Homo sapiens: one gene and its partner. The protein of the gene in region 1 purifies or fractionates together with the protein of each later gene. This does not show direct contact. Each region holds a gene or a part of one and is shown on either strand. Other genes may lie near its edges.

Region 1 (3,819 bases):
TTGTTTTCCCAGCAGCAACTATTAATATAAGTTAATTTGTTAACAAAGCTTCTGCTGTGTGTAACCTTTATTATTTATCTATTTGTTTTTTAGGTTTCATTTAGTGTAACCCAGCAAGTACTTTTAGAAATTTTTTTTTTTTTTCTTGGAGACATGGTCTCGCTTTGTCAGCCAGGCTGGAGTGCAGTGGCACAATCATGGCTCACTGAAGCCACAAACCACTGGGCTCAAGCAATCCTCCTGCCTCAGCCTCCTGAGTAGCTGGGACCACAGGCATGCATCACCACACCTGACTAACTCTGCCTCACATTTTTTATGAGAATAACTCTAAGTACCCACACTGAGCACTGGATGTTTTTCAGCAGCTGATCATTCATACCCTAGAGCTGTCTTCCTCATCACCCACCTTGTGTACACCTCTGCCCATGAGACTGCCTGCCCGCCTACAAGGTGGCACGAGCATCCCCCTTCCCACCTGCCTCATGCTTGTGGGCAGCAGGGAGCAGGCTTCTGCACTGTGTGGCTGCAGCGGTGTGAAGGCCAGCAGAGGCGTGAACCGTGCTCGGTCTTTGGAGGCACCAAAAATACTTCCCTGGTACATGGGAAGAGATGCACAATTTTTATTCACTTAAACCTGATTTTACTCATGTAGGAAGCTAATACCTGTGAGATGAAAGACAATGTTTTACAGCTGTCTGCAGAGGGAGTGGGGAGAGTCTGCTCTGCAGACATGACTGTAGACAGATGTGTGAAATCATAAAGACCTTCCTAAAAGCCACTGGAACATCTACATAGAATCCACAATATAGGCAGGGCACGGTGGCTCACGCCTGTAATCCCAGCACTTTGGGAGGCTGAGGTGGGTGGATCACTTGAGGTCAGGAGTTCAAGACCAGACTGGCCAACATGGTGAAACCCCGTCTCTACTAAAAATATGAAAATTACCCAGACATAGTGGTGCATGCCTGTAATCCCAGATACTTGGAAGGCAGGAGAATCGCTTGAACCCGGGAGGCGGAGGTTGCAGTGAGCAGAGATTGCACCACTGCACTCCAGTCTGGGCTACAGAGCAAGACTCCATCTCAAAAAAAAAAAAAACCCACAATATAAATAGGAAAAAAAATGCACATGACTAAATTTAGGGAAAAAAAGAACATTCCATACGTCTATCCAATAGACAAGAGGAAAATAGCAACTGGATTAAGGCTAAAAGTTTGGTAATAAGTTATTATAGAATATTATATCCTACTGCATAACTTAACCACTTTTCTTTTTTAAAAAATAGTTTTAACAAACCCTCCTTATAATTTTGACAGCTGAGTGCCTTTAAGCCCCTTTTTTCTTTCTTTCTTTTTTTTTCTTCTGGCTACTTAGTCTGTTTAGTCTGTGACAAGAAGGTCAGGATCATCCCTGCTGTCCACAAAGGAGATGATTTATGATACTCTGTCCCCATCTTCACAAGCCACTGCCCAGTGGGAAAGCAGCTGGATGTCAATGTTCAGCTGGTGGTGGCTGGGAGCATGTTTTTCCCATGTCAAGGATTCTGTTTGATGTTTTGCTTGACTCACGCATTCAACAGACACTGCTCTGTGCTGGGCACTGCAGGGCAGCAGGTTACATGGGGGCTCTGGAGCAGGGCTGGGAAGACAGCTAAAAACACTAGACCCTTGAGCTGCTGACCTCATCTCTGGGCCTAGGCCAACCCAGAGAAGCTCCAACAGGCTGCTCCACAGAAGGGACAAGGACGGGGTTTCTATCACTATAGCTCAGGGATGCTACTGAATCTTTTCCAAGTAGCTACACTTGTATCTCACTCAAAATCATCATCTGAAAACAGGTTTAGGCGCCCCACAAAGCCAGGGCATGGCAGGAGACAGCTATGTGGCCAAGGCCAACAGCACACTCCAAAGACCCAATCTATAAAAACCCGGCCTTACCATGCTGCCTTTTTTTTTTTTTTTCCTTTTCTTTTTTTTTTTTTTAAGATGGAGTCTCACTGAGATGCCCAGGCTGGAGTGCAATGGTGCAATCTCAGCTCACTGCAACCTCCACTTCCCAGGTTCAAGCGATTCTCCTGTCTCAACCTTCCAAGTAGCTGGGACTACAGGCATGCGCCACCATGGCCCAGCTAATTTGTTTTCCTATTTTTAGTAGAGACGGGGTTTCATCATATTGGCCAAGCTGGTCTCGAACTCCTGATCTCAAGCTATCCACCCACCTCGGCCTCTGAAAGTGCTGGGATTACAGGTGTGAGCCTCTGTGCCCAGCCCTGGTTTGCTTTTTGTCATGTTACGAGTTAAATGCTGGGACTTCAGGGATGACCATGGTCAGGTCCCTCATTCACAGGTGAGGAGTTCGAGGCCCTAAGTGGTGAGATTTGCCAAAGCTGCTAGGGCCAGTGACAGAAGCAATTTTATTTATTTATTTTTTATTTTTTGAGACAGAGTTTTGCTCTTGTTCCCCAGGCTGGAGTGCAGTGGCGTGATCTCAGCTCACTGTAACCTCCACCTCCCAGGTTCAAGCGATTCTCCTGCCTCAGCCTCCTGAGTAGCTGGGATTACAGGCACGCACTACCATGCCCAGCTAATTTTTTGTATTTTTAGTAGAGATGGGGGTTTCACCATGTTGGCCAGGCTGGTCTCGAACTCCTGACCTCAGGTGATCCACCCGCCTCGGCCTCCCAAAGTGCAGGGATTACAGGTGTAAACCACCGCGCCCAGCCTATTTATTTTTTTGTTTTGAGGCAGGGTCTCACTCTGTTGCCCAGGCTGCAGTGCAGTGGGGTTTTTCATAGCGGCTGCATCAATTTACATTCTCACCAACAGTCTGCAAGGGTTCCTTTTAATCTACATTTTTTTTTTTTTTTTTTGAGACAAGGTCTTGCTCTGTCACCCAGGCTAGACTGCAGTGGCAGCATCACAACTCGACCTCCAGGACTCAAGCGAGCCTCTCACCTCAGCCTTCCAAGTAGCTGGGAGCATAAGCGTGCACCAGCATGCCCAGCTGATTTTTTAATTTTTTTGTAGAGATGGGGATTCACCATGTTGCCCAGGCTGGTCTCAAACTCCTGGGCTCAAGCAATCCTCTGACCTTGGGCTCCTGAAGTGCTAGTATTACAGACATGAGCCACTGCACCCCACCAGAAGGAAGTTTAAACCTTATCATTCTTTGATTCAGTCTACACCTGTCTTCCAGGTCAAGGAGCAAACCTTTGGATTTCATGGATGAGTGAAATAAAATAATAAAACTGGGGAGCCTGTATCAGGTTTTTAAAAAAATGTTATTAAGTCTATTTTTAATATCATTTCATGAAAGACTAAAATCAAGGAAAGAGAAAAGCTCAGAATAAAAGTCTTTCCTAAAGGAGGATGAGAGGCAACTTCAAATTAAATATATTGTTTAAGGGATATATTTAAATACTTAGAAAGCAGAAAAAAATCACAATGTCCTATTTTACAATATGTATACAATTTTCTCTCATCACAAATTTATCAACTTTTCTATGATCTAAAATACAATTAAATCCCCAAAATTTACTTTCTTTTTAATCTTAGTCATTGGCAAAAAAAACTCACTTCACATAAATATGTTGAAAAACAACTGCATTTGATGTCAATTTTTGAGGCACACTGAGCAGAGAAGAGAACAGCTGCTTTCACCGTGTCCACACATTCACCCTCAGAGCTAGGGAAGATGGGGGTGACACACAGACTGGGGCTGTCCGTGGTGCAGCCACAGTCCACTGACTTGTGGGCTAGAGCTTGGGAACCCCAGATTTCAATCACTGATTCCTGGACAGGTGTGTGGGTCTGACCCTAC
Region 2 (3,819 bases), on another chromosome or scaffold:
TTATATGAAATGAAATTCCACCATAATAGTCTGATTACTCAATTCAGTAATCTAAGATGAAGAATCTTAGGTTAGAATAACATTCAAAACCAGAATATAAACAGACTATCAGATATCTCATATTCCTGACTCTCTTGGTGAACAACTTACATAATTCTATCCTTTTCCAAGGTGACTACTATTGCTACAAAATTAAAGGGCGGAACACTGTGACATTTAATAATTGAATTTTGGCTGAGCATGGTGACTCACGCCTATAATCCCAGCACTTTGGGAGGCCGAAGCGGGTGGATCATTTGAGATCAGGAGTTCGAGACCAGCCTGACCAACACGGTGAAACTCCATCTCCACTAAAAATGCAAAAATTAGCCAGGTGTGGTTGTGTGTGCCTGTAATCCCAGCTGCTCAGGAGGAGACTGAGGCAGGAGAATCGCTTGAATCCGGGAGGCGGAGGTTGCAGTGAGCCGAGATCGTGCCACTGCACTCCAGCCTGGGCAACAGAGCAAGACTCCATCTCAAAGAAAAAAAAAAAAAATTAAAAAGTAATATTTGATGTTCCATCTTCTAGATTCCATCAATACTACTAAATAACACGTTTCACACTTGACAATTAAAACTGTAAATCATATAGTTCATTAATTATAATCATAAACTAGAAGGTAGCCAGAGAAGGATTATTATCCCCACTTTGCAGATTTAGATACTGAGCTCAGAGGTTTTAGGTCATGTACCTAAGGTCACATATATAGCAAAGGGTGGAATCGGTACTCAAAATTTAGGTCTTCTGATAATTTTTTCCTATGCCATATTATTTTAAAATAGCCATTATAGAAGCAGCAGTACACTGTAGATAAGAACAATGCACCAGCCTAGGAGTCTGAAAACCTAGTTTAAAAAGCCTTTTCAGAAAGTCAGAAAATTCAGCCAGGAGCAGTGGCTCACGCCTGTAATCCCAGCACTTTGGGAGACCGAGGTGGGAGGATCACTTGAGGTCAGGAGTTCGAGACCAGCCTGGCCAACATAGTGATACCCTGTCTCTGCTAAAAATACAAAAATTAGCTGGGCATGGCGGCAGATGCCTGTAATCCCAGCTACTCGGGAGGCTGAGGCAGGAGAATCACTTGAACCTGAGAGGCAGACTCCAATCTCAGCGAGCTGAGATTGCACCACTGCACTCCAGCCTGGGTGACAGAGTGAGGCTCTATCTCGGGGGGGGAAAAAGTCAGAGAATTCTATGAAGAAAACACAGCCTGCCACTTACTCTCACTTATTAAGCACCTGCCTGTGTTAGAATTTGTACCAAGCAGCAACAGTCACATCCTTTCCTCAAGTCCAAATTATCACTGCCTCCATTTATTGCTTACCCTATGGGAATGAGGAAAGAAGAGATAGATCAACCTTAGGTAATTACAGAGCATATAAATCTATGGAGGTGCTAGGTAATGATTTTTAGAAGTATACCCCATGATCCAGCTGGCAACTTAAAATCTGGAAAAAAAAAAAAAAGAGGCCAGGTGCGGTGGCTCATGCCTGTAATCCCAGCACTTTGGGAGGCTGAGGCGGGCAGATCACTTGAGCTCAGGAGTTTGAGACCAGCCTGGGCAACATGATGAAACCCCATCTCAATGAAAAATACATTAAAAAAAAAATTAGCGGACATAATGGCATGTGCCTATAGACCCAGCTACTCAGGAGGCTGAGGTGGAAGGATGGCTTGAACCCAGGAGGCAGAGGTTGCAGTGGGCTGAGATCACGCCACTGCACTCCAGCATGGGTGACAGGTCCAGACCCTGTCTCCAAAAAAAAAAAAAAACCTGAAAAACGTTTTATTTATAGACTTCTAGAATACAATTTTCAGACAATATAATGCAAACGCATGTTTCACTTACCGCTGGGGTAGGAGTCTATCATTAGCCAGGTAGCCTGGCTTATGAATCTCTTTATTGTAATCTCCATACTTGGCTTGGACAGCATAGGAAGCCAAAAGAACTGCAGTTTCTGGCGGGCAATATATCTCATCATTTAAGATGGCTTCTTTAACTTGCAAGAAGAAGAGTCTCTGGGTTATTTCTTGAATTAATTCCTCAGAAACATCTTCAGGAAAGAATTTAGCTCTAAACTTGAACTGTAAAGGATTCTCTTTTTTAACATCCTGCTGTGTTACCTGGAAAAATAATTTCAAGTATAATCAACAAAAATCTTAAGTTTACAATAATTAGACCTAGTCACATCAAATTCTTTTTGGAAGAAAATGAAGTGAAATAGATTCTAAATCTATGAAGATTTTAGTGTGTAATAGTCTAAATCTGTAAACAAATATATGTGGTAAAAGATTCTATGCTCTTGAATGTGACCTATAACTCAGATTCTAATAACCAAATTGAAAACTTTTTTTCATATTCTTGAGAAGCTTATCCTACAGGTATTTACATCAAAATTGAAGTACTTAGTATGCCATTTGTAATATCTGCTTTAATATTTGTTATAGGCTAAGTTTTCAAATAGGAAAAGTAAGCATTTCTTTTTTTTTTTTTTGAGATGATAAGCTGATGGTGCCTGATTGAATTTAAAAAAACATGGTACCTCATAATGATTAACAGATAACTACAAAAGGAAGCTTGCAATCAGTCAGACTTAGCTTTTCCAGCACAAATTCATAACTTCAACTTAACATAATTATTAGTTTAATGTTATCGTACATATTTTACCTTTTTATTTAGTTTAAGCCATGTAGAATAACCTTTGCTGTCTACATACTGCAGCCCAAAAAACCAGACCTCACGCAAACCAACTGTTTTCACCACCTAAAACACAACAACAACAAAAAAACACAATTTCAGTCCAACATACACATTGTGTCTAGATGATACTACACTTCAAAAGGAGAACAAAACTATGTAAGTATACGTATATTCCTTTGCCATAGAAAAGGCTTTCCCTAAATTTAAGATATTAAAGGAACATTTTTGAAAACTCAAATTCAAGTTTTCTATACTCAATTTTTCTTTTTTTTTTTTTGAAAAGAAGTTTTTTTTTTTGTTTTTTTTTTTTTTGTTCTTGTCACCCAGGCTGGGGTGCAATGGCACAATCTTGGCTCACCGCAACTTCCGTCTCCATTCAAGTGATTCTCCTGCCTCAGCCTCCAAAGTAGCTGTGATTACAGGTATGCACTACCACGCCTAGCTAATTTTTTGTATTTTTAGTAGAGATGGGGTTTCACCATGTTGGCCAGGTTGGTCTCAAACTCCTGACCTCAGGTGATCTGCCTGCCTCGGCCTTCCAAAGTCTTGGGATTATAGGCGTAAGCCACTGCACCTGGCCTCTAATCCTCAATTTTGTAGTGTCACTTCAATCCTCTTACTTGATCCACTTTTTCATACCTCCTTTTCCTTATCTATCATGACCTCAACAATAACAAGAGTCTTGAAAATATATATATATATATATATAGTTTTCATAATCATACGTTCCAATTTCTATTTACCCCCACAAGTACCCTATTGGTATATTTAGGGCAAATGGTATCATTTTGGTGATAAGAAAAGTCTGATATATTCCATGTTCTACCTTCACTGAGCAAGAAACCATTCTTAGAACATACCATAAATTCCACCCTTCTACAATTTTGCTGATGTTTTTTCCTCTGCCTAGAATGGGTCTTCTGTATTTTTATGACTTATTGAACAATTTATTCTTTAAGGACAAGCTCAACTAACGTGCCTTCTGTGAATAAAGCTCTCCTACCATCTAGATAAAATTAATCACTTGTTCCCTGATATTCCCATAGGACTTTATCTATCCTGCTATTAGAAAATTTAC

Evidence for each region.
Region 2: the proteins of IMPA2 (region 1) and RDX fractionate together in Homo sapiens (co-fractionation; one large-scale study listed by BioGRID). This does not show direct contact.

Annotation. Positions count from the first base shown.
Region 1 is NC_000018.10:12,001,814-12,005,632, reverse strand, and holds part of IMPA2 (inositol monophosphatase 2), read right to left. Parts: intron 1-3,819. UniProt on the Homo sapiens protein: Phosphatase that can use myo-inositol monophosphates, myo-inositol 1,4-diphosphate, scyllo-inositol-1,4-diphosphate, glucose-1-phosphate, beta-glycerophosphate and 2'-AMP as substrates in vitro.
Region 2 is NC_000011.10:110,262,071-110,265,889, forward strand, and holds part of RDX (radixin), read right to left. Parts: intron 2,805-3,819; coding exon 2,709-2,804; intron 2,165-2,708; coding exon 1,890-2,164; intron 1-1,889. UniProt on the Homo sapiens protein: Probably plays a crucial role in the binding of the barbed end of actin filaments to the plasma membrane.